2 separate regions of the Homo sapiens genome follow, and region 1 is linked to region 2. Evidence: fine-mapped expression QTL. Tissue or cell type: skeletal muscle. Region 2 holds a variant in brackets; the other region holds the start of a gene. All regions are shown on one strand. Distances are from middle to middle.

The links. PIP is the estimated chance that this variant, and not a neighbour inherited with it, causes the effect.
Region 1: EEFSEC starts here. The variant in region 2 is fine-mapped to the expression of EEFSEC in skeletal muscle (GTEx, PIP 0.93).

The regions. Positions count from the first base shown.
Region 1 is chr3:128,150,473-128,158,472 of GRCh38, reverse strand. It overlaps EEFSEC (eukaryotic elongation factor, selenocysteine-tRNA specific), which reads right to left and starts at 4,992. Exons shown (of 7, transcript NM_021937.5): 1 at 4,650-4,992. The coding sequence starts at 4,965. It also overlaps a transcript of RUVBL1 not described here. RefSeq lists a silencer at 4,482-5,001 and an enhancer at 5,132-5,361.
Region 2 is chr3:128,257,719-128,265,983 of GRCh38, reverse strand. EEFSEC (eukaryotic elongation factor, selenocysteine-tRNA specific) reads right to left here. Exons shown (of 7, transcript NM_021937.5): 3 at 3,760-3,856; 4 at 1,203-1,367. Among named protein-coding and RNA genes, the nearest start is that of EEFSEC, 110 kb to the right of the region's middle. The variant G/A (reference allele first, on the strand shown) is at 3,832.

The sequences.
Region 1 (8,000 bases), 110 kb after region 2:
ATAAGACAATGAAGTTTGCCACATCAGGTGACTCTTCCTTTTACAAAAATTTATCTGTAGCATGTGAAGCTGTTTGATGGCATTTTACTCACAGAATTGCTTTCAAAACTGGAGTCAGTCCTCTCAAATCTTGCCACTGCTTTATCAACTAAGTTTATGTAATATTCTAAATCCTTTGTTGTCATTTCAACAATGTTTACAGCATCTTCACCAGGAGTAGGTTCCATCTCAAGAAACTACTTTCTTTGCTCATGCACAAGAAGCAACTCCTCATCCACTCAAGATTGATCATGAGATTGTAGCAATTCAGTCATATCCTCAGGCACCACTTCTCATTCTAACTCTCTTGCTATTTCTACCACATCTGCAGTGACTTGCTCCACTGAAGTCTTGAACCCCTCAGTCATCCATGAGGGTTGGAATCAACCTCTTCCAAATTATTGTTACTGTTGATATTTTTACCTCCTCCCATGAATCACAAATGTTCTTTATGGCATCTAGAATGATAAATCCTTTCCAGAAGGTTTTCAATTTACTTTGTCCAGATCCATCAGAGGAATTATTATCTTGGGCAGCTATGGCCTTATGAAATATATTTCTTAAATAATAAGACCTGAAAGTCAAAATTACTCCTTGACCCATACACTGCAGAATGGATGCTGTGTTAGCAAGCATGATAACAAATTAATCTCTTTGTACATCTCCATCAGAGCCATTAGGTGACCAGGTGCATTATCAACAATCAGTAATATTTTGAAAGGAGTATTTTTTCTAAGCAGTAGGTCTCAACAGTGGGCTTAAAATATTCAGTAAACCATGCTATAAACAGATGTGCTGTCATCCAGGCTGCGTTGTGCCATTTCAAGAGCACAGGCTGAATAGATTTAGCATAATTCTTAAGGGCCCTAGGATTTTTGGAATGGTCAATGAGCAATGGCTTCAGCTGCATTAGCCCCTAACAAGAGTCAGCCTGTCCTTTGAAGCTTTGTACCCAGTCATTGACTTCTCTGTAGCTATGAAAGTCCTACATAGCATCTTCTCCATATAAGGCTGTTCCATCTACAGTGAAAATCTGTTTAGTGTACTCACCTTCATCAATGATCTTAGCTAGATCTCCTGGATAACTTGCTGCAGCTTCTCTATCACCATTTGTTGTTTCATCTTGTACATTTATGTTCTGGAGATGGCCTCTTTCCTCAAACCTCATGAACCAACTTCTGCTAGCTTCAAACTTTTCTTCTGCAGCTTCCTTACCTCTCTCAGCCTTCATAGAATTGAAGAGTTAGGGCCTTGCTCTGGATTAGGCTTCCACTTAAGGGAATGTGGTAGCTGGTTTGATTTTCTATCCAGACCACTAAAACTTTCTCTATAAAGCAATAAAGCTGTCTTGCTTTCTTATCATCTGTGTGTTCACTACAGTAGCACTTTTAATTTCCTTCAGGAACTTTTCCTTTGCGTCCAAAACTTTGCTGTTTGGTGTGGTGTAAGAGGCCTTGCTTTCAGCCTATCTCAGTCTTCAACATTGCCTTCATCACTAAGCTTAATCATTTCTAACTTTTGATTTAAAGTGAGAGACTTGCAACTCTTCCTTTCCCTTGAACGCATAAAGGCTATTAGCTGGATGAATTTTAATATTGTTGTGTCTCAGGGAATAGGGAGGCCTGAGGAGAGGGAGACAGACAGGGAAAAAGCCAGTAGGTAGAACAGTCAGAAAACACACAACATTTATTAAGTTTGCTGCCTTACATAAGCATTGTTTGTGACATTTCAAAATTACAATAGTAACATCAAAGATCACTGATCCCAGATCACCATTAACAGATGACATGTGTTTGAAATGAAGTGAAATGTTTGATGCTTAATATTTGATGAAAAGTTTGAAATATTGTTAAGAATAACCCAAATGTGGCATAGAGACACAAAGTAAGCAATGCTGTTGGATGGGTTGCCTTGAACCTTCGATTTGTAAAAACCACTATCTGCAAAGTACAATCAAGTGAAGCACAATAACATGAGGTATGCACGTATGTTGGAAGCGGATGAGGGAACTATAGGGTAACCTGGGGAAGCATGCAAAGGACTCCAGCTTTGGAGTCAGGCAGACCTGGACTGTTTCACTAACTACCTGCCTCCCTAAGTCCCAATTTTCTCAACTATTAAATGGTAACCACCACGCTCCTTGCAGGGTTTGCCTGGTAAGCAGCAAATACACAAGAAAAGTCAAGCCAATAAATAGTTGTGTGGTTACCACTATCTTCCAGTTGGAGCAAGGTCCAGAATTAGGTTCAAACGTCATACAGCTAAGGAAGAAAGCAAGCTAGGCTTCAAGCCCAGTTTTGTCTGACTCCAAAAGTATGTCCTTCACCACTCATCTACCCTATTTACTAGACAACACTAAAAACTCGCCATCTCATTTTTTAACCTCTGCCTTCCACCTCCAGTCTGGACTGGCTCAGAGTCCATGTTCTAAAATGTACTTTGATGTGACCAAACAGAATTCAGTTATAAGGGGGCAGGGAGGAATGGGTAGAGAATTGTGTGCCCCTTGAAATTCACCTGACTGAAACATGGATTGAGGAGAAGACTTTAGATAGTGTGACCCTGAGCAAGTCCCTTCACTTCTTCAAACTTCTATTTCCTCTACTGTAAAATGGGGAAATGATCTCAGACTGCCTGTAACATGAAACAGTTGGGAGGTAACAAAGATGAAGTACTGTACTTAACAAGCTCACCATTATAGCTGGGACCCAGAATGCCCAGTGACCAATGAGGCCATCTGCCACCAAGCCAATTATCATCTGCCCAATATATATTCCCATGTGTGGCATACAGAATATTGCTGGAAGGAAACACAAGAAAATGGGAACAGAAAGGTAATCAGGTACTGGGGTCAGCAGTGAGAAGTATACTTCTTTAGCTATATACCCTTTTATACCATGTGTTTATATTATTGTATCATTTTTTCTAAAAACAAAACATGTTTTAAAACTCTATCCATATATTTAAGTGGAGTTAAATGGGTCTGGAAAAGTAATCCACAAAGGTATAATAATGGTCTTTTCAGCCAGGCACAGTGGCTCACACCTGTAATCCCAGCACTTTGGGAGGCCGAGGCATGGGGATCACGAGGTCGAGATCAAGACCATCCTGGCCAATATGGTGAAACCCCATGTCTACTAAAAATATAAAAATTAGCCAGGTGTGGTGATGTGCACCTGTAGTCCCAGCTACTTGGGAGGCTGAGGCAGGAGAATCGCTTGAACCGGGGAGAAAGAGGTTGCAGTGAGCCAAGATTGCACCACTGCACTCCAGCCTGGTAACAGAGCGAGACTCCATCTCAGAAAAAAACAAAAAAACAAAAAAACAAAAAACGGGTCTTTTCATTTGCAGAGATAGGAGGGGTACAGAATTTAGGACAGAGGAGTGGGTAAGGGAATGTTTGTCTTATTTGTGATGTTCTATTTCTTCACAAGTAGCATGTATTCATGTATTACATGTATAATTAAAAATTAATGGTACCTCTTTGTGGGGCATTTTGGCAGTACCCACCACGACCGAAAACACACATGCCCCTTGCCCCAGCCAGTTATTATCTATTATCCTACATATATGCGAACATACCAAAGAGTTCTGTTCTAGAATATTCACTGCAAAATGGTTTGTAAATACTGGAAACAGCATAAACGTCCATCATTAAAAGATTTGTTCAGAAAATGTTGGTACAGGCCGGACGTGGTGGCTCACGCCTGTAATCCCAGGACTTTGGGAGGCCAGGGCGGGCGGGTCATGAAGTCAGGAGTTTGAGACCAGCCTGACCAACATGGTGAAACCCGTCTCTACTGAAAATACAAAAAAATTAGCCGGGCGTGGTGGCGCGCGCCTGTAATCCCAGCTACTCAGGAGACTGAGGCAGGACAATCGCTTGAACCCAGGAGGCGGAAGTTGCAGTGAGCCGAGATCGTGCCACTGCACTCCAGGCTGGGCGACAGAACAAGACTCTGTCTCAAAAAGAAAAAAAAAAAAAGAAAAAGAAAATGTTGGTACAAGGGTGCAGTTGAATTCTATGTGAGCTTTAAAAAGAATGATGTAGCTTTGTGTACAGATATGGGGCACTCTCCAGACACAATGTTGAGTGAAATCGTGTCTAAAAGGATGAGGGAAAGAGGGATTTATACATACACACAGATATGCTTGTATTGACGTGGAGCCTTTCTGAAATGATATACAAAAACTGGTAGCAGCGGTTGGCTCTAGGAACGGGAATCAGACCAAATGACAGGTGAATGAAGACAGCCTTTGTATGTATACCCTTTTTGTAGCTTGTGAGTTTTCTTATTTTGAGTTTTCTTTACTTGACCATGTATTATAAACACATTTGGTAGGGATTTTTTGATTTTTTTTTTTTTTTTTTTTTAAGGAAGGCGCCTTGCAGCTCGGTTCTGCTGGATGGGAAAAGCTGAATCTCAAAGCCTCCGCTCACTTGCTGCGGAGCCCTAGGCAAGTCACGTCCGCCTCTTGGGGCGTCAGGAGCCCCACCAATGAGGTGGGGCGATTTCCCGTCCCGGCAAAGGCTCGAGCGAATTCGGACACGGGGCCCGGTCGCTCCGCCCGCGTCCCTGAGCCCGGCTCCCGCCCCGGCCCGCGCTCACCGCCGATGATGGTCCGGATGAGGGAGGCGTGCCCGGGGCAGTCGACCAGCGTGACCTGAAGCAGTGGCTCGCCGGGCTCGGGCTCGGCCTCGGGCGCTGCCTGGAACTCGGGCAAAGACGACCGCAGGCGCGCGGGCAGCGGCACCGAGAAGCACGAGAAGCCCAGATCGAGCGTGATGCCGCGCTCGCGGCTCTGCGGCTGCTTGTCAAAGGCGGCGGTGGAGGCTGTGGTGCTTAGCGCCCGCGCCAGCGCCGTCTTGCCGCTGTCGATGTGGCCCAGCACGCCCACGTTCACGTTCACCCGCCGCCCTGCCATGCCGCCGCCGCCGCCTCGGACACCCGCCCGGCCCGCCCCTCACCTCCCTCGGTAGTCGCCGCGGTCCGGCCCGTTAAGTTGCCCCCCCGTAACCGGCGCGCTGTGCACACCCGTTCCGGCCCGGAAGCTTCCGCCCTCCTGAGGCTCACGGGCACAGCCGAGCGCCGTGCTCCGAGTGGGTGGTCTAGGAACTGGAGGTCACCGTAGGCAGGGTTTCTCTCTCACGTGGCTCCTCCTGCCTGAAGCCTCTAGGAGCCCGAGATGGAGGGATCCTTCTGAGAAGTGAAGCCATTTGGACTTTCTGGGTGAGTGGAGACTTGGAGAACTTTTCTATAGCTATCAAGAGGATTGTAAAATGCACCAATCAGCGCTCTGTAAAACGCACCAATCAGTGCTCTGTAACATGCACCAATCAGCAGGATCCTAAAAGAAGCCAATCACAGGGAGGATTGAAAAAAGGGCGCTCTGATAGGACAAAAACGGAACATGGGGGGGCGAAGGGGGGCGGGGGGGGCGGGGTGGGCGGGGGGAAGACGGGGGCGGGGGGGGCGGGAAGACGGGGGCGGGGGGGAGGGCGGGGGGACGGCGGGGGGCGGGGGAGGGCGGGGGGACGTGGGGGAGGGGGCAAATAAGGGAATAAAAGCTGGCCACCCCCGCCAGCAGCAGCAACCCTCTCAGGTGCCCTTTCGCATTGCAGAAGCTTTTTGCTCTTCACAATAAATCTTGCTGCTGCTCACTCTTTGGGACTGTGCCATCTTTAAGAGCTTTAACACTCACTGCGAAGGTCCGCGGCTCCATTCTTGAAGTCAGCGAGACTAGGAACCCACTGGAAGAAACCAACTCCGGACACACTTCCAATCATTCATACATTTCAGCAAGATCTTACCAAGTGCCTGGTGGGTTCCGCTGGGCTACAGTGCCCGCTAATATTACATTCAGGGGGTGAGGGCTAAGTCAAACAATACAGCCTGAACCAGACCATTTCAGAGAGCGAGAAGTCTCCTAGGGAAAATAAAAGCTGAGATAAAAAGGAGCAGGAGAGGGAGGATGGACAGCTACCTAACTGTGGGTCAGGGAAGACATCTAGGAGTTGCTGTTTGAGTTGAAACTCCAGTGTTGAGAAGGAGCCAACCATGGGAAAAGATGGTTTGAAGATGGAAGAGGACAACATTATCTCTGACTCAGAAATTCTCACCCTGAGAGTCTGTAGCCTGGGCTTAGGAGAGGCCACAAACCTCTAAATTGAACGCACAATGTGTTGTGATGTGCTCTTGCTAGACAGAGGGTCGACAACTCTCACTAGATTCTGAAGTGTCTAGAACCACAAAAAAGGTTGTCAGCCATAGTCACCAACCAGAGGTAACAAACCTAAGTGTCTGCTCTGGCCAGGTGGTGGGTAAATCAAAGAAGAGAAGTTAAAAGAGTCTAAGATGACAGGGAGTGGTGGGGACCTGGGAGACCTGGAGAGCCCTTTTCCTGTGCAAAGAGGGAAGCCACTGCTCAGTCTCAGCCAGTGATACCAGGCAGGAATGCTAGCCCAACATTGCCTCCTCCTTCCATTTTTCTGGAGAAGAGAGTGTTTTTGTAACACTGTGGCGGTGGAGCACAAAGTTCACAGGATCTTACCTTTGCCCTCTGTGATGAGCCAGACCATGTGCGGATGTATTCATGCTTGCAGTAACTGCCTCCTTCGTTCCACCACTCTCCACTAGGAACAGAGTCCATGTCATAGACTGAATTGTGTCCCTCTCAAATTCATATGTGGACACCCTGACCCCCAGTGTGATAGTATTTGGAGATGGGACGTTTGGGAGGTTAGATGAGATCATGAGAGCGGGCCCTTGTGATGGGATTAGGGTCCTTACAAGAAGAGAACAGAATCTTTGTTTCCGTTTTCCCACCTTGCAAATAGGAAACTGTAAAAATACGCCTCCCATTAAAAAAAATCTAGTAGTAAAAGCAGTAAACGTATTTAAAAGGGAGGGTTAGTAAATAGGTAATAAGAGCTTTAGAGGCTTTATGTACCTCTGAGAAATATTTCAACTAACAAAGACTTTGTACAGGGCCTGGCTTCAAATAAACCTCATTTCTTACCTCTGTTTTAAACAGAATCCTGAAATGGTAATGAAAAGAAAAAAGGTTTGGCTGGGCACGGTGGTTCATGCCTGTAATCCCAGCACTTTGGGAGGCTGAGGCAGGCAGATCACTTGATATAGTTTATATATCTATATATAGAATATATATAGATTTTATATATAGATATATAGAGTATATATATATAGAATATATACAGTGTATATATAGAATATATAGAGTATATATAGAATGTATATAGAGTATATATAGAATATATATAGAATATATAGAATATATATAGAATATATATAGAATATATACAGAATATATATAGAATATATAGATATATAGAGAATATATAGAGAACATATAATATATATAGAATATATAGAATATAGAATATATATTATATATATAATATATAATATAATATATATAATATATATAGAATATATAATATATAATATATAGAATATATAATATATATAATATATAGAATATATTATATATATAATATAGAATATTATATTATATATATAGAATATATATATAGAATATATATATATAATATATAATATATAGAATATATATAGAATATATAATATATAGAATATATAATATATAGAATATATAATATATAGAATATATATAGAATATATAATATATAGAATATATAGAGAATATATAATATAGAATATATATAGAATATATAATATATAGAATATATATAGAATATATAATATATAGAATATATATAGAATATATGTATAGAATATGTATAGAATATATGTATAGAATATATACATAGAATATATATTCTATTAGTTCTGTCAAATATATATATTCTGTGGAATATATATATGGAATATACATATATACATATGGAACATACATATATACATATGGATGTATATTCCATACAATGGAACATACATATATATATATATAATGGAATATAT
Region 2 (8,265 bases):
TTATAATAGTATAAGCAAATTCCTTAAAAAACGTATCTATTTATCTATCTGCATCTAATACTAGGTGCATTAGTTGGTGTTCTCCAGCAAAACAAAACTAATAGGAGATACAGATATCTACATATTTACATCTATGTATCTTTACCTATGTATCTATAGATACCTAGATATCTGTATCTCCCATTGGTTCTGTTTCTCCGGAGAACCTTAACCAACACACCTAGTGAGCCAGACAACCTTAAAATGCCTCAATACAGCCTCCAGGTAGCCATTCCCAATTAACATGCAAATTGAAATCATGCACATCCAAGCCTCTCTAGCAGCTAGCTGAGTCCACAGGGCTGAGCACCTCCACTTCCCTGCACTGTAGGCTCCTTCAAGGATTAGAGAACTGCCCTGGACCCCAGCATTCCAGGCAAGGTCTCACATGAATTCTAAGTAGCATGTGTTCCCTACCTTTTATTCTTGTTGAAGGGGAGGGCAGTCAATGAGGCTGTAAGTTTCTCTTGTCGCATAAAGTAAAACTATTAAAAATGCCTTCTAAATAAGGGGAATATCAAGGCACTATCTTTTAAATCAGAGCCAGGCCATCATAGTAGAAGGAGGGGTGATGGGAAGGCACCAACCACTCATCCTTCTCACAGGTCTTCAGAAGAATAATGCGGCATCTGTCGATGGCCACCAGGAGTGCAAAACCAACCTGGATTTCTTCCAGATTCTGTGATTCTGAGCATCATAAGATTCACGTCATGTTTAATTTGAAATTACTGTGGTTAAGAAAAAGGTACCCAGAAATAACTCCACACATACTTGCCACCCTGACGTACAGCGTCCAGAAAGGGAGGTTTCCCCTCCAGCAGCCCCACTTGTTAACCATGTGATCTCAAGCCCACCTCACCTTCTGGAGCCTCAGTTTCTTTATCTACACAGAAGACCTACTTGGGAACACCTCCTTGAGGCACATCATAGGCCTCCAATAAACAGGCGCTATGAGAATTAGGGAGAGCAGCAGTCCTAGAATCTGAGTTGAAAGACTTGGAGCCGGGCGGGGCCAGGCAGCCAGAGGGGAGGTGGGGCGGAGCAGGCAGTGGGAGTCCCAGGGCAGGCACAGCAGCAGGCTCAGCAGCTGAACAGACAAAGGGACAGTCCCCCTCCCTTGCTGCCAGCGAGGAGGCCAGAAGGGAAGACAAGGTAAGACTGACCTTGAGGGCAGGGATCTCCACACTGTCACCGAGGCTGATGGAGCCTGAAAGGATGGTCCCTGTCATCACAGTGCCTTGGCCTTTGATGGAGAAACAGTGGTCCACAGACATGAGGAACGGTCCCGAGGGATCTCTCGTTGGGATGGAAATCTGGGACGTCAGGAGCTAGAAAAGAGAAACTGGTGCCACAGTCCGTGGGGAGAGGAGCCAGATGGGGCAGGGCAGAGGAAGGCAGAGAATGTGGCTGACCAGCAGTTCATCAAGGCTGCCAAGGTGAACTCAGCTCAGAGGTCCATGCCCTGGCAAGGTGGACAGGAGATCAAAACCACCTAACTCCCTGACTGCATTCCAAGCTTCTGCCATGCTCTCAGCTCTTTCCGCTCAGTCTGAAGGAAAGGGCACCTGGAGAAGCCTCGTCTGTCTTCTCCCGTGGGACTGCTACAATGGTCTGTCCTGCCAGGCCCTCCATGCTGCAGGAGAGTAGCCACTAAAGGACACCCTGTCGCATTGCTCCCTGGCCTCATGCATTTCCCCAGCCTCCTGATGCCTTCAGAATTTAAAACTCCTCATCATCTAGCCCCTAGGTACCTTTTAGGCCTCATCTTCCGCCACTCCCTGACGTATGCCAGAAGCCAGCCGCCAGCAGGCCTAGAGTTTTACCAGCTGGCTGAGCCTCGCCTGTACTGCAGCAATACCTCCTCTGGACAGGCTTCTCTGTATGGCCACGTTTCCCCTGCCCCCATCACTATAGCTAACACTCTCCTGTGATCATCTCTTTATTATCTCCCCCATAGGGCTGTGAGAGCCAGGTATCTCCAGTAGCTGGCATCATGCCTGAGAGAATGACAAGTGAAAGAAGAAGAAACAAGGGGATGTGGGGAGAGGGAGGAGGAAAGGATTGTTCCCAGGGTCCTTCCTTCTCTGCGGACTCCACACGCCTCAGCCTCACCAGCCGATTCTCCTCATGCCACCTGTGTGCCGGGAGATGCTGTCAGGGCTCATCACCAATAAACAAATGAAAACAAAGACTAGGATTCCTTGTGTTTGCTACTTTTTCACTTCGTAAGGGAACAGGCTGTCAAAAAAGTATTCAGTGGTGAATGTTCCAAAGTCTTAGTCTTGTGATAACAATTCTTTTGGAAAAACACTAGAGATTCAAACAAAACAGGCTTGGTCTGAGATTTATGTAGGGGCTTCTTAAAGGAATATACAAACATCTTTCAAAGCAGCATTTTTGAGGATTTCGCTTTAACAAAAACAACTATCCCAGGCTCCCAGACAAGTGCTCTCAGGAGCCTGATGAAAAAGTAACAAAAGCCTCACCCAGAAAACATTTGTTTTGCTAAGCTGACAAGATCAGCACGTGTAAATCACAGAAATGGTGGCAGTGCATGTACGTGGTCACATCTCATCTTGGCTCTGCGGAGCCAGGTGCAGGGGGGCCGTGAAGCTGACCCCAGCGATCAACCTGGGTCTGAATCCCAGCTCCACCGTGTAACTCGCTGCCAGACATGGGTCAAGTTATTTAACATCTTTGAATCTCAGACTCTTCGTTGGTATATGGGGATAAATAATTTCAGCCTCCCTGAGTTTTTGTGAATGTCAATGATCCTGTATGTAAAGAACTTAGTACAGTGCCTGGCCTGTAAACATCAACATCACTGTAACAGTAAGCACTGACATGGCACTGTACCGAGCACATTATACACATTAACTCATTTAACCCTCACAACTCCACGAGGTATGTGCTATTATCTTCCAAGTGAAGGAACTGAGGCAAGAAAGAGTAGATCATTTGCCTGAGGTCAGAGAGAGTGGTGGTGGAGCTAGCCCCTGAACCACAGTCCAGCCCCAGAGCCATGCACGTTGCTACTCCACCCGGCTGAACTGTCCTGAGCACTCTGTGGAGGAACTCTGTGGCTCCATTCTCACTGCTACCTTCCTTAGTACCAGCACCATCAGCACCCACACACACCCTTCCTGATGGATGACTGGGCTCCCTCCCTGACTACCAGCACAAGTTAGGAAGAACAACCTGGGCCTCAGCCCCACAGCTTCCGAAGATAAGCCTCCCATCTTTGGTGGAGGTGCCCAGGATGGAAGCTGCATTGCCCCTGCTGTTGGGCTCATGTCTTTCACCCCTGCCTCACTGGCCCCCAGCCCAGGTGGGGTACTGGAGGAGCTGATACAGTCTGAAGGACTGGAATGGATGTCACGGTCCCAGGGTTCCAGATGGGTGGGAGCTGCTTTGTCTGAGTGTAGGTATGACAAGAGAAAGGAGAAAGTGAGGCACAGCAAGGTGTGACGAGCTCTGCAGAGTTTATGGCTGGAGGGTGAATCATGGGCTTCAGTGAACCTTAGGAGTCCTAGTTTGGGTCTACCTTTTTGAGGGAGGTGGGGGAGTTGTGCTAAGGTGTTAACAGGGAGGTTAATGGAACCAACTGAGTCCTCTTGCTAGGGCTGCCTCTCTTTCTCTCTCAGGGGAGAGAGGGACACAAAGGGGCTGGCCTGAGCAGCGCTGGGGCTAAAGGGCAACCTGGATTCAAGATGACAGTACCTCAATGAGCTCTGGAATGCCCTGTGGAGCTTCAGTTTCGGGGGCCTCTGGTCCCCCCGGCTTGGCCGCCAC[G/A]GGTATAATCGGTGCACCTCGGAACCTGAAATGGAAAATAAGTCCCATCACAGTTACAGAGATCAGCAACATGGACACAAAGCACGTCCATGAAGCACCTGGCACAGTACCAAGTGCAGTGAGCATCCTCTTCTCTCCCCACATCAACCAAGCCTAGAAGACAGCACCACTGTACTAGCACATGGCACATGATGCAATGGAGGCCCCAAATTTCCCCGTCTGGGGGAAATGTCCCTGCATTGGACATCAGAATTTTAAAGGGCTCTCTTAGATATTAACCTCCACTTTCAGAGCACTCCCTAAGGAGGCAGCAGTGATCCTGGCCCCTAGGCTTCTGAATAAAAGACCTCCTTGAAGAAGACCAATAAATACATCTCAGCCTTCTGAAGAGATGCAAGAAATAATAGTGACCAAAAAGTATCTGCAGATGTACCTGGAAGCACGCCTCTACAATCTCAGTTTCTAATGCAGAGCATTCTTGCCTAAACTCTACTAGCAAAGCCCCCGCATCTTTAAGAAGACATACTTATTCTGTGTGGACATTTATCTTTCCCATTTAAAAAAAGGAACATTGTTAGGGCAAAAAAAAAAAAAAAAAAAAGAGGGAAAGAGAAAATAAATAACCCATAATCCCATCATTTGGTGTATTTTCTTCCAACCATGGTTTTCCCATGCTTTGCCAAGGGATTCTTTTTTTCAGATTTTGGTTATAGTATGTATACGATTTCATATCCTGCTAATTTATTTACCATTATATCACAAAGAACTTTCTGTTGAATGACAGCAACAACAATAACAACTTACATGGCTGAGCCAAGCCTATAATGTGAGGTTTAAATGAAAGCATCTACAACACATGATGGAGTTGTTGCCATCTTATAGATGAGAAAATGAGGCTTAGGGAGTCTAACTGATTTGCTCCAAGTTGTTGGCTATAAACCTTAGAGCCACATTTGAACCCAGCCCATCTGAGTCTGAAGCCAGGGCTCTCAGTCTCTTTGTCACACTTCTCTCCACCTGGGCCTGTTCTTTCATTGTTGACACCTGGACAATGGTACGACCCAGAATTTACATGCTTGTACATGCTTTCCTCCATTACTTATTTGTGATATTTCAAATTTTTCACTATTATAAATTACACTGTGATAAACATGTCAGCGGGCATGAATGTTTTTTTTTTTTTTTTGCCTTGGCTGTGGGATGAATTCGTGGGGTACACATCTAAGAGTGAATACTCACTAATAGATCAGCAAAATGATACAGCAAGGACATCTGAAAAGCCCTCTTCCATGGAAACAAAGAACACTGGCAAAAATGATCAGAATCAACTTGTTCAGAACTCTGGAAATTAACCAAAGGCTTGAGCAATCTGTGGAGTGTTTATTCAAGAAGAGTCTCAGTAAAACCAAGTGAGCTTTTGATGTTTTAACTTGCCCTCTTCCTATGCTAACTCTGCAGCTGTCCTGAAAACCAATCATGGTGAAAACCAGTAGCATGCCAGGCACTGAAAGGGGCAGAATGGGTTTGAGCTCCTTCAAAGCCCTTCTTCCAGAGAACGATCATGATTTTCCAGTCTGGTGGCTCCCTGGAAGGCCCTACTCACAATGCTATATTTATTTGACCTGCCTTGGAGCTTGCTTAGTGCAAATAGCCTTTTCCCTGGGGGAGTTTGTTGAAAATAATCAGAGGCAATTGTTTAACATCACAGCTGCCTGAGGGAAGCTGTGATATTTAATAGCCAAAAACTTCTCAAATTTCATGGAAAATATCTACACTTTCAAGAATCTCAATAAACTCTAAATAGGATAAACTCAAAGACACCCACACCTGGCACATTACAATCTAACTGTTGAAGGCCAAAGACAAAGAGAATCTTGAAGCCATCAAGAAAGAAGCGACTGAACTCATGTACAAGGAATCCATAATAAGATTTGCAGCTGGTTTCTCAGGAGAAATCGTGGAGGCCAGAAGGTATCAGGATAATATATTCAAAGAAGTGAAAGTTAAAAATAAAAATAAAAAAAATCTACCAACCAAGAATTTTATATGCAGTAAAAAATGTTACAAAAATGAAGGGAAACATGGGATCACCACATGATCCAGCTATTCCACTCCTAGATATATATCCAAAAAGAACAGAAAACAAATACTCAAAGAAGTACATATCCATACATGTCCAGAGTAGCACTATTCACAATAGCCAAAAAGTAGAAACATCTCAAATGTCTATCAATAGATGAATGGATACACAAACTATGTTGTGTATATATACACAACAGAATATTATTCTGTTGTGACATAAAAAGACATGACATAAAAAGACATGAAGCATCAATACATACTTCAGTGTGGATGAACCACAAAAACACTGTGCTAGGTGAAAGAAGTCAGACACAAAAGGTTGCATATTGTGCAATTCCATTTATATGAAATACCAGAATAGGTAAGTCCATAAAACAGAAAGGAGATTAGTAGTTCCCAGGCTGGTGGCGCACAGAGAATGAGGAGCAAAGGGCTTAATGAATACAATTTCCTGTTGGGGTAATGAAAATGTTCTGGAATTAGATAGTGGTGATGGCTGTACAATTCTTTCCACATTGAAAGTATGAATTTCATAGTATGTGAATTCTATCTCAATTACAGAGAAAATAGATTGAAAGGTATGCTACCTTTTCCACTACCACAATGGACATCTAAGATGCCTATTTCACTGCACACATAACAAAATAGTCTTTTAAAAATTATTTTTAATATATACTTCATTTTAATTTGTATTGCATTGCCTTAATAAGTAAGCCATACAATATTGAACCACTTCCAATTGTTTGTATACCCAATGTATTTTCAGGAGACATTTCTGTAGCACTTCTAGTTCTGGAGTTTGTTTCCGCCAGGAAGAGCCACCCTTACCTTCCTGACACTGAGGCTTGCTCTAAGTGCTTCTCTGTATATAGTCTAGCATGCAACACAGTGGGAGTGGCAGAAAGAGACAGGACCTTTTACCGAGCACCAATGGTACAAGCAATTGTGCTAGAAGCTTTCCAATCCCCATCTTCTCATCACAATCCTGAAAGGTGGGTATTATTCTTCCTCCCCCTATTTCATAGAAGAGGGTCCTAAAAGTTTGGCTAGCTTTGGTAGCTTGTTCCAGGCCACAGGCTAATGAGTGGTGGGGCTGTGATTTAAAGCCAACTCTGAGTTTACTTTAAACCTGAGACTATCATGAGAACAATCCTCCATCAGCCTAGGTTGGAGGCAGGGGCATGTGTCCCTTCTCAAATCCATATGAGAATTTGGAAAGCAGCTGATCTTCAAGGATCAGGGAACATATATTTAAGTCCTGTAGCCAGATTAATAAAACCCTTGCCCTTAATTACATACATTAAATATATGTAATTTTAGTTCTCAAACCAACGAAAAAACGATATGATAGCTATAATTATAGTACCCAATACTATGACAGTTTGCTATCACTTTCAAATTGCAGACATAAATTTATTGAATTCTTAACAACCCTCTAAGGTAGGAAGAACTTCTGTCATCATTCCCATATTCAGAGTCACACATTCATTCTCCAAATATTGGTGAAGCACCCACCATGCACACAGCACCTGGCTAGATGCTTTCACATGACTCCATTTAATCCTCACAGCAATGATGTCAGGTATTATATTATCATTTTAGAGATGAGGAAACTGAGGCACAGAGAGGTCAAATGATTGCTAAAGGGTCGCAGGTGAAGCAAATAGCAGAAGCAAGGAGGAATCCAGAGCTCAGCACTCTGGTCCCAAAAGCCCTATTCCAGAGCCCTGTCCTTCCCACGGTGCTGGGATCCCCAGAATGACCTCCAGCATCCACTCCCCAGGGACACTGACCTGGAAGATGGCATCAATGGTCTTTCAAAACACAAAAGCAGAAGATTGAGCCCAGTGCCAGCCTGGGCACAAAGAGGGGATGACAAAACATCAAGGTCGCTCTGCTCCCTCCCTTCCTCCTCCTCTCTCAGGGTTGACCTGCACATAGACCAATTGTCCCACATCCTCTTCACAAGCTTTGTCAAATTTGTGTGCCATCTAAGCTATTTGCTCATTTATTTTCCTTAAAAGAATTAATGTTCTTACTTAAATATATTTATTTTAAAACGCAATTTCATGCCACTATCTAAATGGAAAACCACCACATTCCACAAATAAAAGGTAGAGTAGAAGCCCTCCCACCACTGGTCACTTTAAGGACATCCATGAGGCAACGCTCTGCACTCCCTCTGCAAAACCTGCTCCTGGCTCCTAGCATGCCAAACCTCCATGCTGGGGGGGGACAGCTTGACGCGCACAGGCCACGCTCAAGAGGTGAGTACTTCCTGCACTTTTGCCTCCTGACCTTTATGCTGAACCTGGTTATGCTGTAAAGTTGGTAATGCCCGTTATAAGCTTC